Regions from separate parts of the Homo sapiens genome. Here regions 1, 2 and 4 are each reported to be linked to region 3. Evidence: microRNA targets listed by miRTarBase, many of them from high-throughput screens and not tested one by one. Region 3 holds a microRNA gene; each other region holds the end of a gene's coding sequence. Distances are between the middles of the regions.
What was found. The annotated mature microRNA hsa-miR-106a-3p reads CUGCAAUGUAAGCACUUCUUAC and lies in region 3 at 1,442-1,463, shown strand. An mRNA with a match to its seed (bases 2 to 7 or 8) in the 3' UTR can be bound and repressed. Matches are read on the target gene's strand: a 7mer-m8 pairs with bases 2 to 8, a 7mer-A1 pairs with bases 2 to 7 and ends in A, and an 8mer does both.

Region 1 (5,154 bases), 120 Mb from region 3:
GTGGTCAACAAATTATAGGAAGGGTCATCAAATACTCTTCATTTGAAATCAAGAATTAAGACGTATGTGTTGAATATGTATAAGAAAGAAAATTCTTTACTCCATGACTGATGAAAAAGGTTATTGTTTTAGCACATGAGTGGTGAACACAATTGTTTCAAATTGGTCATAAACGTTGTCTAAAAGAAAGTGTTCAGAAGTATTGATTTAAAGAGTATTTCTTTAATGCAGAATGTTTTATAAGTATTAAAATTTACCCAATTTTAATCACTTTTTTGTTTTGTGCCTCTAGAAAATATTTCAAGAGCAACAAAAGAGGTGGCAACAAGATGGGAAAGGAACTGAAAGAGATTGAGCCACCACACGAGCAATTCACAAAGGTCTGTTCTATTTGGTAACACAATACGTTCTTATAAAATACAACACATGCATAAAAATAGAAGACAATCTGCTTGTTTCTGAATGTATGGAAAGACATTTTGGTTATACATTTTAAATTACTTACCATTTTCACTTTGAATGTGTTGTTCCAGATTTAACATAAGTAGTAAATAACATAAAATAACATAAAACAGTATTTTTAGGATTCATGAATAGTTTTGTAGGAGTTATTTAGAACAGGAAAAGGTAAATTGGAAATTTTACCTAGAAATATACATCTTGTGTATAAAAATTGATACCTTATGAACACATTAATGAAGACTTTATTTTCAGTTTTTAGGAGATCAGCGACAAATCTTTAGTGGAAGGCAGAAAGTCCATAAGTCCTTTCTGGATGTCTTTTTTACTTGTGTTGTTTCAAGAGTTTTAGTTAAATAGGAAGTAGGCAAATGTAACTACTGAGTATCTCTTTTGTTTTCTGCTGTAATGTAGGAGTGTTTTATGGCATATTCACTTTCAAAATTATTAGTGACTAGTAATGGTTTTACATGACAATTTGTAATCATAAGAGATGGTTCAGATGTATAACAGAATGGGAAAGCCAGCAGATTATTAACATGTTGTGAATTGTGAATTATCTGCTGTCGTACAGCACATTAGCAAATTGTCATCGGACAATGACCGCTTCTTCATGTAGATGTATATTATTTAGGAAGCAATGGAATTCCCTTCTGGGAGGTAAGATATTCTTTTTAATAACCTTGTGGAAAGACATGTTCATATGTCACTCCTCTACACTAACTGAGATGTGTTAAATAAACTGGGAAAAGAGTTTGAAAATAGAATTTTCAAGCAACTCAAAGATTATCTATACACAAAACGGTTATTTATATAGAAGTCACAAGTAGAGAACATGTTGCTATAATGTTCCCCAGAAACCATTTATTAATTGGTATGAACATGAGACTAGAAAAGTTTTCCTGTCAATGTTAATGCTACATGTTACCACTTAGGGTAGGAACTTCGGTATCATCTTGGACTCTTCTGAGTCCATTATCTTTCACATACAGTTTTCATGAGGCAAGTTTTACTCTGCAATGGTCCTTAAATTTCTTTTTTTTAAATTGCCACTGAGGCAACCCTAGTTCAAGAACTCATTCTTCCTTGCTTGTACTATTAAACTCTTTTCTGAGTTCTCTCTTCTCTTCTGAGCCACCCTTCATTGATCAGAAATACTATCTTCCTAAAACTCTTCCCTTCCTAAAATGCTTCTAGCCCTTCACTCTTCCCAGCCTATCAGTGGTATCCACATGTCAGTTCTTAGATATTCAGAGACTCTCCCCTTTACATGACCCCCTCTTAGGCTTGTTTTACTGCCTTCTGTCTTTCTTCCCGCCTCTCCAGGTTGACAGCCTTCTCTGAACGACCTCTCCATTACTCTCATGCTTTGCTCATGCTCTTCCCTCACAATGCTTTTAAAGTCCTTTTTTTTTTTTGATCGATTGAAATCTTTTGCCAACTAAGTGGACATCAGTCTCCATTTTTGGCTACATGTCCGAGTGAGTTGCTCTTCCACAGCAGTTACATAAGTTTTGTATTATTTTTTTTATTCGTGCATATTTGCTCATGTCACAGGAATATGGAAGAGATTGTGTATTCATTTTTTACATCTTCCTCAGCATTAACATACCACTTTTTAGGGAGTAGGAACTGTTGAACTATTTGTTGAGAGAATAGTATATATTTCAAACATAGTTATGTTTTCTCTAACTTGATGAGGTCATGTCACAGACCATTTTATCCCTTCAGTGGAAACCATGTTATGTCGACTATTAGTGATAACAAATGGGTCACTATCTGGTGAAAAAATATGGTATTTCATGATCTAAGACTACCAGTCTTTTTCTGTTTTTGCTCCATCTTGACCATAACATATTCATCAAACCATTTTCTTCAAGCAAAGTACATGACTGTTGGACCTGCTATAATAATATTTCACTAAAATCTGGCATTAAAAATTTTAAGTATTTGGAGCTCCATGTACTGATTACAGTTTTTAAATTTGAAATAAATGACCAGCATCCTTTGAATATTAAAAGCTGTTTCCTTTTGACATTTAATTTACTCTCTTTAAAATGTGAGTTGTAAAGTGATGGTTTGTCAGTGAACTAGACTTTTTGTTTTAGAGTGTGAGGACTTGGAAGAGTATAATGAAAGCCCTCTTTTTGGTGAAGAGAGTCAACTTAAAAAATAAATTGCCATGTTCCAAAATAATATTGTGGTAATTGTAAGTAGTGCATATTTTATCTTAAAAACTCAGGATTGATGTAAGCACTGGAATATTTTATTTGTAGAAATGTGTATCGCAATTACTTAAATTTATTTTTTTGAAACAGCTGCAGCAAGAGTTGGCACTTATTCAGATGTATCTTCAACCTCTGTTATTCTGGTGACTGACAAAAGAACTTGAACCTATGTTATATGATACATGCATAACTTGAGCTACACTAAACCACATGACAGTGTTTAGTTAATTCTTGTATAAATTAGTATATCTCTTCTATTATTAGTCTGTTTGTTAAATGCCAGACCACGTTTCTATGATCTGTTGAATGAACCCTAGACAGTTCTGTGAGAAAGCAGCAATTGCACAGTTACATACACAGTCAATTAAATTTTAACATTAAAGATAATTTAGTTTTAGGTTTGGCCTCTGTGGATCTGTATCAGTTCCAAAATGTGGAAAGCACGGGCATGGAAAAGTACATTTTTCTCTAATAAAAGAAGACAAACCCTTATTTTATCTGTGCATTCTTTGTATTTACTCATTAAGTTAAAGAAGCAATTCCAATGAAAGCAAGACTTCAAAAAATAGATAAACTCTGTGGCCTTTCAAAATTATTAAAAGTACCTTAACATCTGTGTTCTTGAAAAAATTAAACTACTATAAATGATTGAGACAACTGAGCAAGATATATTAATATCAGTGCTGAGCCACCGGCTTCTGGGTATGTCATTTCCACAGACATCAAATTGCCATTTGGTTTGTTTTGGTCCACCATTCAGTGATATCTCCCCTTAACATTGATTCAAAGTATTTTATTAACATTTATGTATGCTTACAATTATTTCACATCTGTGGCAAGGTAAATTATGTAGGGTGCTTTGTTTTTCGAGTTTAGTATTTGTGGAGTATGTGGAAGTTTAAGTATACATGCATCTAAAAACTTAAGTGATGAATTCTCCTACCTTTCCTTTTGTAATGTGCAGTTGTTACATGTAACAACATACAAAATGTTCATTTGGAAACACTTTATTTAGTAAATATGAAATTCAGAATATATTTGGAGTAAGTCAGTTAAATGTATTCTTTTGCTGAGTTTCTGAAATTCCATTCATGAATTGTTCAAAACACAATACTCCCATTGGGAGGAGAGGAGCGACTTCCTCTCATTTTTCCTTGTGCTTTTTATTTTAATTGGCCCCTATATACCACTCTTGTTTTTCTAGGTTTTCCAAGTTTAAGAAAAAAAGAAAAACAAGTTCATTCAGATTCTGTTTTTCTGCCTGCAATCACTTATGCAGGAATAAGTGAGTCCTTATGGGGAGCATTTAATTCCTAAAGTTTGCATTTTCATAAAGGATTTTCCTTTTACCCAAAGCATGTGTTGGTGTATAAGTCTAACTACTACTTCAAGTTTCTAAGAAGATCCTCATTTGAGATCTGCAGAGGTCCATATGAGAGTTCTATTATACACACTGGGCTATATAACGGTTTATTCCATAGTGGAAGGACAAGAATTAGGACACAATGTACTTAGTGATGAAACAGTTGATATTTATGCCACCCCTTACCACCTCAAATGAGTAAAGGTGTACTTTAAGTCACTTTGGCAGATATTCTGAAGGGAAGAAAGTTTTTGTCCTTAAAAGTTATTAGGGGTGTGTGTATGTGTGTGTATAAATGTGTATATATATGTGTGTGTGTGTGTGTTTATGTATATATGCATTCCACGTATCTATACATATATAATATGCATATACGTATATGTGAATATATGCACACACATACACATATATATGACTTTATTTTTTAGAATTGTTTTTAGTTCACAACAAATTGATCTGAAGGTCTAGAGATTTCTCATTTACCCCCTGTTCTCCTACCATAGCCTTCCCCACTATCCATATCCCCCACCAGAGTGGTGCCTTTCTTACACCCCATGAACTTACATTGACATATCATTATCACCCCAAGTCCATAGATTACTTCACTGTTCACTCTTGGTTCCTTTTTTTTTTAGTGACTATTTTTCTCACATCACCTGTGCTATAGTCCCTGTTTTATTTTTCATAAAGAGAACATTTAATTTGTACTTTTTTGTGACCATGAAATTTTAGGTTAGAATATCAGAAACAAGTCACACTAAAACAAATGTAAAGATTCACTTTTCTCCCGAAAATGGTAAGACAGATAACATTTATTTATATATGCTTGAAACGTTGCAGTTAGTGCTTTTAAATTCTAGATTGAAGCACATATTTTCTTTTGTTCCATAATAAACGCCCCCTTTGAAGAATGGCTGATATCAAGAGCATCATGTCTCGTAATACTGTCTCACTCAACAGCTGAATGTTGAAATGTACACTCACAAAACACTAAATATATCCTTAGAACAATGATGTACTGAACAAAATTCAGAGTTCAAACGCAAAGACAGCTCCCAAGAAAGTTTTCCCACAGACCAGTGGCAAGTCCTTTCCTTCAGCAAC
Region 2 (5,133 bases), not on the chromosome of region 3:
CCTGACTCAAGTCTGTGTCCTCTGCCACACCTAGCTCAGATTCTGGCACCAACGACGTTCACAGTCAGTGTTGGCTGGACCCTGGGTTCTTGTTTCTGCTCTCACCAGGGTAGAAGGAACAAATTTAAGGCCGTCTAACTTCACCATTAATGACTTCCTGAGAATTTCCTGGGGAAGCATGATTGTTGCAGGCCATGTCCTTGGAATTCAGATTAAAAGAATCTTTTCTCTCCTAAACTATGCTGTTGTTTCCATAAAGTTCCTACCCTAGGCCTTAGTCCACATTTTTGTGTAATAGCATTAAAGCCACCTGGCTGATAATAGCAAGGGCAGGAGCAATGATTGGACACTTCATTAGAGAGAACCCAAGAGGCTTCCTAGTCAGTAAACTGGGCATAAGCAAGCAGCTTGGGGTGCCTGGTTATGCCTCCCAGATCTGTAGTTGTGCGGAGGAAGTGTTTGGGCATAACAATGGATACACAGAAAGGGGTTTTAAAAGTTTTTTTTTTTCTTTTCACCCCCAGGCCTGTGTTCCAAAGATGCAGTAATAACCATTAGGGCCAGGTTTTGAATCACAATGTTTTCAAAAGGAAACAAAGTAGAACTGTAAATCCCTAAGAGTGGGAATACGCTATTGCTGTTACCTTTTTTGTTAATTCTTCTGCAAACCAGAGGAACAACTTAGGATAGAGCAAGATACTTCCTATGCTAGAACCTAATTCTGAGTAAGGATACCTACATTAAGAGCAAGCTTTGTGATGTTAACAACAGGCATATGTAATGCCAAAGTATGAACTTTACAGGATCTCTAAGACGTTTTCTGTAAGAGCTTACATGCCAAAGATGCCAGGATGGATCACTAAACCCTGAGTGGAATCGAAAATACTAGAATTATGCCGCACAGTCAGCATTCTACTTTCATGAGACATACAAATTATGGGAAAGTTAACGGGGTTGTTTTCAAACTAACCTTGTACTAACATAGTACTGGGTTCAGTACACATGACCAGATTTTTTTACACTTACTCCACCTATAGTCCTCTAATAAGATTTGGTACTTAATGACATAATGCTGTAGCTAAATTGTCTATTGTAAAATTAACAGGGGCAGCAGAGAGTGAAGAGCAAATCTAATGCATTAGAACATTCACTGAAACTCTTGTCTCCATCAATCAGAACGTTCAATGAATCAGAACCCCTAATGAATCAGAACCTCTGACCACACTGGACACGTTTGCTAAATTTAGCTTTGTATCGGCAAACGCTGAAGCTCAGAATAGTTTACAGAGCTCTCATCTTACCCTTAGACAGTGATTCTTCTAAGACTGCTTTTCCATGGCAGGCCAAGGCAAGGCAAGGGGCATTCCACATGCTCTCTCAACGCCCATTGTTAAGAGACTGGCCCAAGGTTAAATGAATCTGACAAGCCATGGCAAAAATGTTGATCCCGACCTCTCCACAGTGGGACCAGGAAATTAGCCATATATCACATTTCACGTGTTAGAAGTAGTTTGCAGGAATGGCCTAACATGCTCTATGGTCCTTGAACCACATCCCATATTACTCAACCATCTAAGTCTAGCTTCCCTGAATCTCTAGCTTCTCTGAATTAGACGTGGCCAAGTTCTATAAATAGAGAGCAAGCAAACTGGTTCTGTCAATCTTCTCATACTCTGGCAAGATGGCATATTTTAAAATTATAAAAATATCTATGTCTTCATCACTCTAAAATTATTACATAACACATGATTTTCTCAGGGGAAAAATGTTTATTCTTGTCTTCCCTTACCTTCCAGCACTTATGTATGGACCTTCAAACTTTGTGATCATATTCATCAAACACAAACCATACTTTACAACCAAAACTAAGGGCCTACTATGTGCCAAACACTATGTGCCAAACACTATGTTATGCAAATCAAGAAATGTTTAAGGAAAAAACAACCAAAAACCAAGTCTCTTATTTTAAATTCCAGCTGGCAATTCTGTAACAACTTGTGGTAGCATGAACATAGGTCACTTTAGATAGACTGCAGCTATTACTGTAGTGTTAGCTCATGATCACTATTCTAACATGGGCTTTTAGTAGATTTCACTAGAGACCTTCATCCCATATGTCCCTAGAAGAGGCCAATATCCCTGCATAGCTGAGGTCTTAAAAACATGACATTACATATGCAGGGTAAATTCTAAAATAGTGAGCTTGACAGACTCTTCCACTATTCACTATATATGTCTAATCCAATGAAGGATATAGGGCTTCCCTCACTCATACCCCCTAATAAAAAACCACAAAATCATAATAATAGACATTAGCACAGTTTATAAATAAATCACATTTTAATCATCTGGCTTTGTTTAATCTACAAAATCAAATTCACAGCTTTTTCTAGTCTGGTCTGTTTTTTCTAACCAGATGGCCTAGTATATTTTCTAAAACCTTCCATCTTTTAAGGAAAACATGTTCCACCTTTTTTTTTTTTTTGCAATCCCAGAGCCAACTTCCCTAATGCAATCACCTCAAAGAAACACTGATGGGCTGGTGGTGAACCACAGACTCAAAGTCTTTCAGAACAGTAAAAGAAAAAAAAAAAAAAAGGAACAAAAGGTCACTAAGCAATGTCCAGTGTTCCCTGGAAAGCCTCTTCCTGAATGCTCCAGTCACTGAGCTGTCCCCTCCCTGTGGTCACTCCTGCTGGCCCCTGTAGCATTCCATTCCTTCTGCCATCTGTTTCAGGTTCTGCAGTGCTTATAAGGTAGTGTCTGGAGGGGTGTGAGCCTTATTTCTTTCTGCTCCTAACCCAACCTGTTTCTTTCATGCTGTGTAAATGGTTCTAGAGCCCACCTAGGCCAGAACCAGTTCTCAGCTGGTGTGCGGGCACCTTCCATCCACTGTACTATGTGCCAGTTCAGAGCCACAGCAGTAATGATCACAGTGAGGGCTAATGATATGCATTACAAAGTCTACAAAAACAAATAAGGATTTTTATTTGCAGTACTTTCCACTCTTCCTTTAAAAACTTGCCATTTGCTTATCAGTTCCTCTGGGGCTGACCCACTCAAACAAGACAAAGGATAAAGAACAAAAGATAGTCCTCCGAGGTTACAGGCTTGGAAGGGCAGAGAGGAGCTACGAACCTTGGAAGAAAAACAAGGTGCTCAGGAATTCATCGCCTAACATTTCACTTCCCCACCCACCCCTTAGTGCTCCCACTTTGGCAGTGATCTCTCTTTGGCTTTAAAGAGAAAGGGGGAAATGTGCCTTGTTTTGCAGGTGTGCAACAACACAGCTCTGGCATCTCAAGCAGCAGGGGAGAACTCTAAGACAGAAGAATTTCTTCATGAAAATCACGGTATGTTATCACATACTGTCTCCATGGCCCATACAAGGACTCCTTAAGGTTCTCTCTAACATACAACATATCCCCCACAACTCAGTAGAGAGGTTTTCTTCCCACTGGAATAGAAATCCTTTGCCTCATTTATTACAGTCTAAAAATCCACACTGGCTTTTTGATTCTTTCTAGCATGAGCTCAGACACTATACTTCAAAAGAATGCCCAGAGGCATTTTCTTAGGTAGAGACTTAGCTGCGGGCTGAGACTTCGGCCCCACATAGCTCACATCAATTCTGCAGCTGCCTCCTTTCCTCCCAATAAAAGCATCATAGCTCAGAGCTACAAGCTCCTTGAATGGAGAAAACCCAAATCACCCAGGAAAGGTGACACAACTCCTGATGTGCAGTATCAAGTGTGAATGCTGGAAATGCTACTTAAAAGGTTGACCAGGAATGGCCTGGAGGTTGTCTTCAACTTGAGTAAATCACACAGACCTCTGAGATTTATCCTACCCTCATTCCTAGAACAAAAAAAAAGTATATTTAAGAAATCCTCACTCATTACTATCACTGTATTCCTCACTCTCTTACAATATACTGAGGAAAAAAAAGATTTCTCCTTAACCTCCTACTAAAAACTAAAATTAAGGGGACCCTATAAACAAGTCAGGCAGCCAACATGATAAGGGCAATTTTGGCAAAATATGACTGGGCTGAGTAGAGAGGTATCTCAGAGACAGCTAGCATCTTTGTTGGTCAAACCCTAGTATGAATAATTCAGTGCTCTTCATCAGATGAAAGGCCTTCAATTTCATCTCTGTCTCCCCCGATTGCCATCCAGAATGCTTTGGCCACCTGTGGAGAGAAGCATGCAACAAATTTTAGGCAACAGCTACATTTCAGCTTGTTTCATATGTCATACCTTAAACTGACTGAGACCTAAAATTCTGCACTTTGCCCTCCAGTCCTCTGGCAACACATATCAGAACCCTTGAATACCATTTGACCCATGATCGCCACATCTAGAAATTTATACCAAGGATATATTTAGAGTTGTATACAAAGATGATGTGTAAAGACATGCACAGCTTTGTTATTTATAGAAGCAAAAAATGCACATGACCTAAATGTCCAAAAGGGAACAGGATAAATTATGACACATATCAGGGAACACCATCAACCATACAAGTTTCCTGCCAATAGCATGTGTTGTGTTGGTAATAATAAAACAAAACAACTAAGAGTTTTCTGGCCCAATAGTTAGAAAGGCAAACATCCTGAGTCTCAATAAAGGTTCCACATCACTCACCATCCAGGTGAAAAATCTTGGTTTGACTGCAGCAACTATACTATTACTGTATAAATATTTAATTAGTTAGAAGTTAATATTCAATGAAAAGCTCACACTAAGACCCTTCAGAAATACACAAGTGTGATATATAATTATAATAATAGCACTGGACCTTTTATAGGTATTCAATAAATACCTGGCTGATTGTCTCACCTTTTCTGCATGCACTTTTCTTTGCTCATGAGGAAGCGTCGCAGCCTTGTCTAGGGGGAAAATATATCTTAAGAAATTTGTCTAATAGCACAGGATAACCTGGAGTATATGAATAACACTAGAAGATGGGAGACGGGTTTCAAAGACATGTTTATGATGTAGTCATTACATGTATTAGGAAGTTTTTAAGTCTTCCAAATTTTCCAGATGGGAATGATGTGAGTAAATTGGTAGGGATCTTACAGTTTCCACCTTATGTAACACATTGAAAGAAACAAGGCAAAAGCAGGAA
Region 3 (5,154 bases):
AGGTAAGGGTGTGAGAGACGCGGGAAGAGGCAAAAGGGAGCCACAAAGGCGTACAGGGAAGGACTTCTTTCTTTCTTTTCCTTATTATTATTATTATTATTTGCAATTTAAGGGGATTGGAGAGTGACTGCCCAGCGTGCGCGAGGGATGCCAGATGAACCGCTAATTAGCAAAAGGTAGTAACTAGAAGGGCGCCCTGTCTGATGGCTGTGGGGCTCAGTTTGGCCAGGTTGGGTTGGCAAATACTATGCATTTTGAGTCAAGTTTGGAGTATTTTTTTTTTAATGGAAAAGAAATCTTCACAGGTGTAGAAACCCAATTTAAGGGGAAAAATGTTATTTTTCTCATTTCTATACTAAATCCATTCTTCCCTAATAGAAAATTGATTCCAGATTGATGTATAAGTTTTATAAATCAGTTTAGTTTGTAAAGACTTCTAAAGACTCATTTAGTGGCATAAGATATCGTGACGAAAGTTCAACATTTAAAATTCCCTCACTCGTTTAACGTATTACAGATTCTGTCCCAAACGTTTTTGTTTTTCTTTTAAACAAAAGTTACCCCATCATGGAAGAGATAGGGGACCCTGTGAGCCTTTTTCACATAGAGGCTCACTTCCTTGCTGTATGTTCTTAGGTAAAATAAGCACTTGGAAATGGGAGAAGGTTTTCTTATGGAAGATAATGACATGAAGGGAAGAAGAGCTAATCTGCCTACTTTGGTTTAATGGAGAAAATGGGTCCATAAATGTTTAAACAGAAGTAGAGCCCTTTGAAATAGATCAAAATGTGACATCTCTCAGCCATCTGTGCATTATGTGAAGACTGTAAGGCTGTGTTTCTTAAACCAGCTCTAAAATTTCTCTCATTTTCTATTAATGGGGTGGGGGCTGGGAATATTCATTTAATCTAACAGTCACTTTCCGTATGGAGCCCAAAAGCTCTGAATGATCTGAAGACTCGAATACTCATCCTGGGTTTTACATGCTCCTTTCTCTAGGTCCTCCTCTTATAAAATCAGGGTGGATAGAATGTGCCTGCAAATTACTGAGATGCAGATATCAAATTTTCTTAGATGGAGAGGGGGAGTCCAAAATCTGCTTATACATAAGAATTGGACTTTTTGCAGTTGCCAGTGTTATTCGTGTTCAATTCTGTGTAAATAATTGAGATTATTAATATTTCTCAGGATTTGGTTGAAACCACAAAACCTAGCTTAGACTCTGTAAGCCAAAGGAAAGCCTGTTTCAGGAATATTAACTAGTAGTTTACTTGTTTAGTTTCTAATATGTGTGTGTTTGTTTTGTTGTTTTAACCAGGTGAGTCTGCATGGATCTGTGAGGACGGAAAAGAAGAGCTCCTGGAAGACTTAAAATTTTGCTACAGGAATAGGCCTTGGCCATGTAAAAGTGCTTACAGTGCAGGTAGCTTTTTGAGATCTACTGCAATGTAAGCACTTCTTACATTACCATGGTGATTTAGTCAATGGCTACTGAGAACTGTAGTTTGTGCATAATTAAGTAGTTGATGCTTTTGAGCTGCTTCTTATAATGTGTCTCTTGTGTTAAGGTGCATCTAGTGCAGTTAGTGAAGCAGCTTAGAATCTACTGCCCTAAATGCCCCTTCTGGCACAGGCTGCCTAATATACAGCATTTTAAAAGTATGCCTTGAGTAGTAATTTGAATAGGACACATTTCAGTGGTTTGTTTTTTGCCTTTTTATTGTTTGTTGGGAACAGATGGTGGGGACTGTGCAGTGTACAGTTGTGTACAGAGGATAAGATTGGGTCCTAGTAGTACCAAAGTGCTCATAGTGCAGGTAGTTTTGGCATGACTCTACTGTAGTATGGGCACTTCCAGTACTCTTGGATAACAAATCTCTTGTTGATGGAGAGAATATTCAAAGACATTGCTACTTACAATTAGTTTTGCAGGTTTGCATTTCAGCGTATATATGTATATGTGGCTGTGCAAATCCATGCAAAACTGATTGTGATAATGTGTGCTTCCTACGTCTGTGTGAACACACCTTCATGCGTATCTCCAGCACTCATGCCCATTCATCCCTGGGTGGGGATTTGTTGCATTACTTGTGTTCTATATAAAGTATTGCACTTGTCCCGGCCTGTGGAAGAAAGGAGGATTTTTATCGTCTTCTTATTTTAACTTTTAAAAGCCGTAAGTTCTGATATTTAGTCATTGTAAAATGATCTGTTTTGCTGTTGTCGGGTGGATCACGATGCAATTTTGATGAGTATCATAGGAGAAAAATTGCACGGTATCCATCTGTAAACCGCAGGACCTTTGTTGGCGACATTCCTGATCAGCGCTACAGTAAGCTAGATGGTAAAAAATCCTTTCTCTAGTTGCTGCTATTAAAAAATAATTTGAAATATATTTGGATTTCTAAAAACTATGATAGCTAATTTATAAAGTATGTGTTTTGGAACTTTGGTGAATGATCAGATTGTTACTGAATGTGAATGAACCTCAAAATAAATGAAATTTATAGATCTGAAAAAATGACTCTTTTTTTTTTAAAAAAAATAATTAGCAATGCTAGAGGAGTTTGTAAAATATCTCTTGGGAGGATCCTAAAGGAAAACTTGGACATAGCTGCTTTTCAAGTTTGCATCTACATAAAGCACCAAGATGCCTAATTTTAGGAATTTTATTACCCTGACAATATTTGGATGACATGTACTAATTTTGTTTTAGTACACGTGCTCATTCTTAGGAAGGGAATGAAGAGTTGTAAACCAATGGGACACATACCTTTAAGGAACTGGGCACATTTTGAGGTCTGACAGGAGAGAAGAATGAACTTGTCAATCAAACTCTGTTTTGGGGTTCTCGGAGAAGAGGATTTGGTGGCAGGGCTACTGAGAGGGATGGCTGCTGCCTTGCTTTGGAGTCTAGCAGATGGAAACCTGGATGTGGGCCTACTGTTAATATTTAGGGTTCGGGGGCTCCATAGGGTGACTAACCTAAAGCAGAAATTTCTCATGCGCAGCTAATTAGTGGTTTGAGACTGAACACCAAAAGTTATTTGGATCCTCTAGTGGTTCTTAAAACTTTAGCACTTACTAAGACACAGCCAGCCAACCCCATCTCCAGAGATTCATTCAATAGGTCTGGATGGGGCCTAAGGAATTGCATTTCTTTATTTTTTTCTTTTTGAGACGGAGTTTCGCTCTTGTTGCCCAGACTGGAGTGCAATGGCCCGATCTCTCATTCACCACAACCTCCACCTTCCGGGTTGAAGTGATTCTCCTGCCTCAGCCTCCTGAGTAGCTGGGATTACAGGCGTGCGCCACCACGCTTGGCTAATTCTGTACTTTTAGTAGAGACGGGGTTTCACCATGTTGGTCAGGCTGGTCTCGAACTCCTGACCTCAAGAGATCCACCCACCTTGGCCTCCCAAAGTGCTGGCATTACAGGTAAGGAATTGCATTTCTAACCTTTCCCTAGGAGCTGATGCTGCTGGTCAAGACACCATACTTGCAGAACCACTGCTCGAAAACAGCTAACGACAGCTTCTAGGACAAAGTTAACAAAGGAAGTTGTTTATTTTAAACTTCATAAAATTAAAAGAACTCGAAGCAGGGACTGGCTTGCTTTCCAGTTCTATGTTTCATATTTTAATGTTAATCTTTAACATCATGTATTTGGCAAATGAAGAAACGAGGCTTGTGGTAGTTTTACTGTCTGCCAACATGAACATTTAGTTCTCATCAAAAAGGTGCTGCCAAACTAAAAGATGGTATCAGTATGTGTCATTCTTACTTCCTGGTGCCATGGAATTTTCTAATTTTGAAACCCTTTTGATTTTTCCTCATAACATCAGTCCATTTTAATCAGTAAGAGGAACTCTCTCTGAATTGCATTTTAATCTTGAGCTAGTTGCCTAAGGCTTCAATTTCCTCATTAGGGGAAATACAGTGATAACATTGGTCTACCTCAAGGATATGTGGGTTAAGTAAGTTCTCTGGTGGTGGCGGCTGGGGGGATGGATTTTAATTGTTAGTGATGAAGTGAAATCTTAATGAAAAGAGACTTAGGGTAGTAAATTCTGTCGTCCAGTATTAAGTATGTGTGTGTAATTTTTTAAAAGTGACTAATGCTTGAGGCAATTATACAAACATAAATAACTACAGGTATTTCCTGTGTTGTCTAGTGCTGACTACGTTGTTGGTGCCTAATCATAGTTAAGTTTGATGTGGCAGCAAAGAAAAGGGTCTCCCGCCCTTTAATAAAGTAGCTCAGTAAAAGAGGGGATTAAAGCTTATTTGTTGTAATCCTTAACACCACCAAACCTCCACTTTAATAATACAAATTTATTGTCCTAGTGGTTCACTGGTGCTTTACCTAACGTGGCTAGTATGCAGTCAGTTATTGCAGTTTCCACTTTTAATAGGCTTGTGTGGAGGAGCTGTGTTCCTTAGGGTAGGCCACTCTGCCCACTAGAGTCAATTCCCTCACCTAAAGTTAGGGCCGAACTTGATGATCTGAGGACCCTTTCTAGCTTCAAAAATTCTGATTCTATATTTGCTCAAGTTAGACTAATCCAATAATTCTTTTTTTTTTTTTTTTGAACATTTCATCTTTTACTTTTTAGGACCAACAGACTTGATAACAGCCTGATGCTGATCTGACAATGGGTTGACAGCCTTCCCCCACTGGCCCTTAAGTCTGCTTAATAATAAGTCCTTTGCTTCTGTCATTCTCCTGGGGGATGGCCTACTGCCCTCCTTTCTGTACAATCTGGGCAAACCGACTGGTGATGGCAAGAGTGGTGTCAATGAAGTGGTCTACACAGCTGGAGAGACAATTTTCAGTGCAAGAGTCCAGGCGATTCCCTGGCTTCTCCACACATTTATCCCAACATAACTCCATGAAGTGATGCACCTGTGCAGTAAACTGCGCCTTCTGCTGTTCGGCGGCCACCAGGTGCTGCAACTCCGCTCCATCGGCTTCACCCAGCTCCGCCTTTGTTCACCTCAGACTTATCCAATAATTCTTCAAGTGTTTTGCATTGAAGTCATTTGTCTAGAATACTTGGGAATGGGTTAATTTAAGTCATTAATCATGGGCAAAATTAGTAATATCTACATACGACATATATAGCTTGCTCATTTTTAAATAATTACAGTAAG
Region 4 (5,154 bases), not on the chromosome of region 3:
ATTGGTCTTCTTATCTAGACTCACACTTGCTGGAGCAGAAGTATTCATTTATGAACCTCGGATAGCACCAGCATTTAACATATGCATATTTGTGTGTGTGGGTGGGTGTGCATGCACGTGTATTGCATTCTAGGGGTTACTGCCTGTATGAGGAATTAGTTACCTAAGGATTAAACGGAAGATGAAACCCCAGGTGAAGTGGTTGAGGGCATGAAGGGGAGGCAGACCCAGACTTTCACCCCTTTGTGTTCCTGACATTCAAGAGCCCCTGAGGTCCAACCCCTCCTCCATGGAGCCTGGGTCCTCAGCTGGCGGATCCGTGAAACTCATCTCTGGGGAGCATTGGCTTCTGTGGTCCTGCACCTGCTCCTTGCAGCCAGTTAGGGCTCAGAGAGGACACAGAGAGCACACAAGGTCCCAGGCTGCACAGAGAGCACATAAGGTCCTGGTTATTTCTGTATTGGGGACCACTTACCATATCCATGCTGAGCTCCCGGGATGCAGGAAAACTCTCCCAAATGACTCAGGAGCTGAGTTTGGATTTGTAGAACACAGGAAGTCTGAAATAATTCAATGAGGAGACTGGAGGGAACCCTGCTACAGCAGAGGAAGGGTTTATTGAGGAACTCCATAAAACTCATGTCAAGAGACACAGGGGAAAAGAAGAATGCAGAGCCCAGGAGTGAGGCTGGGCTCAGGGCTCTTCTCCACTGTTTTGATTCTCAGAAGCAGCTGAGACCCTCAGCCCATCACAAAACAAGACAGACTCCACGACTAGTGAGTGAGGAGATGCTCTCAGTTATGGGACTGGCACAGAGGGTCAGGTCCTGTAAAGGGGAGGTGGGTGCCCTGGGTGGACATACAGGAGTCCCGGGGTGATTCCGATCTGCCCTGACCTCTGTGACCTCTTTGTCCAGCATCCCTAGGCCAACACCCCCAGGATTACACAGTGGAGAATCTCATCCGCATGGGTGTGGCTGGCTTGGTCCTGGTGGTCCTCGGGATTCTGCTATTTGAGGCTCAGCACAGCCAGAGAAGCCTACAAGATGCAGCCGGGAGGTGAACAGCAGAGAGGACAATGCATCCTTCAGCGTGGTGGAGCCTCAGGGACAGATCTGATGATCCCAGGAGGCTCTGGAGGACAATCTAGGACCTACATTATCTGGACTGTATGCTGGTCATTTCTAGAGACAGCAATCAATATTTGAGTGTAAGGAAACTGTCTGGGGTGATTCCTAGAAGATCATTAAACTGTGGTACATTTTTTTGTCTATGAATGTTGACTTCCCTTGACTGGATCCCCTTTTTTTCCCATCCCCAGACATGAGGCTCCATCCCACATGGCACCGTTGGGTCCACACCTCCACACACCTGTGTGCTCTGGTCCACGGCATGTGACACAGTCTTCCTTATTCCTCATTGTCACACTCCTTGATGTCACTTACTGAGTCCCCGTCTCTTCAGTTCAGAGATCCAAACCTGAACCACCAACTAAATCAACGACAGGAGATCAGATTCCAACCAGGAAAACATAAATCCACCCTGCTGCCCTGACACCCTCTCTGTACCTTATGAGCCCTTCCCTCTTTCTCAGATGCTATCTGTGTAATTTCTCCTGAAATATCACCACTTGGAATCATCACACTGGCATTTCAAGTGACACCACAGCTATGCTGATTCAGAAAAAGACATCTCTAAAATACTGTAATTAGTGGTATCTACCAATTTCTGTGACATAAATATTTTTCTCATGGCCCAAATCAAGGTGCCAATGGGTTCTCACTGAATACAGGGTTGGGAAGCAAGGGACAGAACTGTCTTCACTAATGAGCACCAGGGACCTGTGGCACATCCCACTGAGAGCTCACCCATATACCTACAGTCCTTTCTATTTCAGAGGCAATGATCACTTCTACTTCAGTGTTATGGCACAGGTCAAATGAAATTCTGACACTGTTATCCTAGCATATCCACAAAAGACAAACCTATTAATATCTGATGTGGGAGATAACACGGCTCACCTAAAAATCAAAGTACATGCCGGGCGCGGTGGCTCACGCCTGTAATCCCAGCACTTTGGGAGGCCAAGGCAGGCAGATCACGAGGTCAGGAGATCTAGACCATCCTGGCTAACATGGTGAAACCCCGTCTCTACTAAATACACAAAAAAATATTGGCCGGGCGTGGTGGTGGGCGCCTGTAGTCCCAGCTACTCAGGAGGCTGAGGCAGGAGAATGGCGTGAACCTGGGAGGCGGAGCTTGCAATGGGCCGAGATTGCGACACTGCCCTCCAGCCTGGGCGACAGAGCAAGACTCCGTCTCAAAAAAAAAAAAAAATCCAAGTACAACATAAGAAAAATGTTAACAGAACTATGCAGTTTCGATGAAAGAATTTTTTTTGAGATGGAGTTTTGCTTTGTTGCCCAGGCTGGAGTGCAATGGTGCAATCTCGGCTCACTGCAACCTCCACTTCCCAGGTTCAAGCAATTCTCCTGCCTCTGCCTCCCGAGTTACTGGACTACAGGTGTGCACCACCATTCCCGGCTATTTTTTGTATTTTTAGTAGAGACGGGGGTCTCGCCATGTTAGTGAGGCTGGTCTTGAACTCCTGACCTCAGGTTATCCACCTGCCTCAGCCTCCCAGAGTGCTGGGATTACAGGTGTAAGCCACTGTGCCCGGCTGATGGAAGAATTCTTAAATGACTCGTTCTACTTTCTGCTGGTCCAGGCACTCCTTGGCTTGGGGCAGCATCCCACCAGTTTCTGCCTCCATCTTCTCAATGCTTACACCTACCTGGTTGCCTCTGTCTTCACACCCATTCTTCTGTGTGTGTCTTTTCTCTTCTTCAGATTATGATATCACTCAGATCAGATTAGGACTCATCCTAATTCGTTATGATCCCTTGATCATAACTTAAATGCATTTGCAAAGACTCTATTTCCAACTATGTTCACATTTATAGCTAATGGGGCTCAGGATTTCAACGTGTATATTAGGGGGAACAAGTCAATTTATGACAGTGTCTACAAGAAAAGTATGCATAGAAATACATTTAACCAAATACAAAAATTAGGTGGGTGTGGTGGTACACGCCTGTAATCCCAGCTACTCAGGAGGCTGAGACAGGAGAATCGCGTCAACCCAGGAAACAGAGGTTGCAGTGAGCTGAGATCTTGCCATTGCACTCCAGCCTGGGCAACAGAGTGAGACTCTGTCTCAAAAAAAGAGAAATACATTTAACCAAAGAGATGCAATACGTATACATTGACAATTTTAAAATACTGCTCAAAGAAATAACAAAAGACCTAAATGAGGAAAAAGTCATCCCAGTATCATAAATCAAAAGGCTTAAAATTAGTTATCTCCCTCTAGGGAACCTAGACTAATACACTCACCCCGTCTCCTTGTTCGGAGGCTCTCCTGCCTATCAGCTTTTCTCCTCTGTGCTTTCCATGTCCCTGTGGTTCTCTGGTGAGCCCCATCATGCTGTCCTAGAAGATCCACTTAGAATTTCGGTATTTACTCACCATTTTGACTCCTCTTAACGAGACAGGCACATGCCAGCTGTTTCCATTCATCCAACCTGAACCTGAGCCCCCGATCATTTTTTCTACCACTTTTCAGTCCTGGGAAACTCAGTCCCAATGTGCTTGTCATTCATTTGAGAATAATTTTCATTTTCTCCAGTAGTTTTAAAATTACTTTGTATCTATTCTAGATATCGTTTGCTCTATCATAGTTAAGACATTAATGTTATTTATGAATTTGTGCACATTAAACTCATGATCTTTCATTTCTGTAAAAATGTCAACTATTTCCTTTGCAAGTATTTATTGACTAACATACTCCTTATTTCCTTCATTCTGAAAGTGTGACACATAGAGATATATCTGTTTCCTCTTCTCACTCTATTCTTTGTGTGCATTAATTATCTTTTCTATTTTTTTCATTTCTAGTTTTTCTCCGATGACTAATGAAAAATTTAATAAATATTCTACACCAATACAATGTTTATCATTTCAGCAGTGTCTGGTTCTTGATGAAAGTATTTCTAAATGTGTTAATATAATTTACTATTTTCACATCACAATAGCTTCCTAATTCATTTCTATAATTGCCTGTTTTTTCTCTAATGGACTCTTCGATTTTTATTCCTCTGGGGTGGGTTTTTCTCCCACACACCTGATCTTCCATACAGGGTTTCTCCCAGGGATGACTCAGGAAGGAAAACTGATGAGGGGCATTTTTGTACCCGCTCCTGCCCTGCGGTGTCCATGCTCCCAAGTTTAGAATCAGCTCTGTGTTATGCCTGGCATGGTGGAGCCCATGAGACCCTCACATTCAAGTGCCAAAGATGCCCGGTCCAGCAGTGATAAAGCGAGACTGTGTCATGCACACCCGGGAAGGTGGCTCAGTGCTGAATGTGGCCTGGGTCACCAAACCAAGCAATCCCAGATTCTGTCCACAAATACAGAAGAGAGGGAGCCACAGTCTCTCTAGGATCCCACGGTTTCCTCCACTTTTTCCTTTGTTCTGAGAGAAAGACAAAGTGCCATGACTGCTCTGTGGGCTGGACAGATGCCTGTTTTCACCTGCAGGCTTGAACTCAAGCTGAGGTCTTGAGCATTCCCAGGTACTGATAAAGCACCTTAGATTGTTTCTAGAAAACACTGAAAAATTAACCCTTTGTTAATTATGTAGAAACAAACCCTGCCCTGAACCAAACTCCTGAAACGCTCAGGTTAAACTTTGTAACTCAATCCCTTCACTGCAGATACCCAGTAGGAAAGTCACATGAGCAAGGATGAGATGACTTTGGTTAAACTCAGACCCCACAGGGCCAGGAAGGCCTGACGGAGAGGAGGCTCGTGTTGCCAGGTCTCAGATAAGAACTGTTTCTAAGGACTTTTTTAAAAACCCCATAAGAAACTCTTCCATGTCTTTCACCCCTCTCCTGCTTTGACATGGTTTATTACTAGATATTCTTTAGGACATCAGGAATGCAGATAGGCTGCTCTCGAGAGAATACTTGCCCAGCAATGGCATCTCCTCCAATGGACTGACAGCAACTCTGGCTTTGAACCTCTGGAACCAGGGAACTCTGCTTCTAAGCAGCTCTGTCAGCCTCTCCCTTGTTGCTGATAAGAATTTCC

Region 1: miRTarBase lists FAM9C as a target of hsa-miR-106a-3p. The part of its 3' UTR that is shown has no 7-base or 8-base seed match.
Region 2: miRTarBase lists AAGAB as a target of hsa-miR-106a-3p. Seed matches in the 3' UTR shown: 7mer-A1 at 2,484-2,490.
Region 4: the mRNA of LILRA2 is a reported target of hsa-miR-106a-3p. Seed matches in the 3' UTR shown: 7mer-m8 at 3,179-3,185.

What each region holds. Positions count from the first base shown.
Region 1 is chrX:13,033,642-13,038,795 of GRCh38, reverse strand. FAM9C (family with sequence similarity 9 member C) reads left to right here. Exons shown (of 8, transcript NM_174901.6): 7 at 293-380; 8 at 2,778-3,179. The coding sequence ends at 355. Among named protein-coding and RNA genes, the nearest start is that of FAM9C, 8.4 kb to the left of the region's middle.
Region 2 is chr15:67,198,707-67,203,839 of GRCh38, forward strand. AAGAB (alpha and gamma adaptin binding protein) reads right to left here. Exons shown (of 10, transcript NM_024666.5): 9 at 4,842-4,891; 10 at 1,961-4,192. The coding sequence ends at 4,115. Among named protein-coding and RNA genes, the nearest start is that of AAGAB, 53 kb to the right of the region's middle. RefSeq lists an enhancer at 1-109.
Region 3 is chrX:134,166,517-134,171,670 of GRCh38, reverse strand. MIR106A (microRNA 106a) reads left to right here and starts at 1,393; the gene lies at 1,393-1,473. MIR106AHG (miR-106a-363 cluster host gene) reads left to right here. Exons shown (of 2, transcript XR_007068340.1): 1 at 1-2; 2 at 1,319-2,521. It overlaps MIR363 (microRNA 363), which reads left to right and starts at 2,219; the gene lies at 2,219-2,293. It overlaps MIR92A2 (microRNA 92a-2), which reads left to right and starts at 2,059; the gene lies at 2,059-2,133. It also overlaps MIR19B2, MIR20B, MIR18B and the pseudogene TIMM8BP2.
Region 4 is chr19:54,586,284-54,591,437 of GRCh38, forward strand. LILRA2 (leukocyte immunoglobulin like receptor A2) reads left to right here. Exons shown (of 8, transcript NM_001130917.3): 7 at 727-777; 8 at 918-4,004. The coding sequence ends at 1,063. Among named protein-coding and RNA genes, the nearest start is that of LILRA1, 4.8 kb to the right of the region's middle.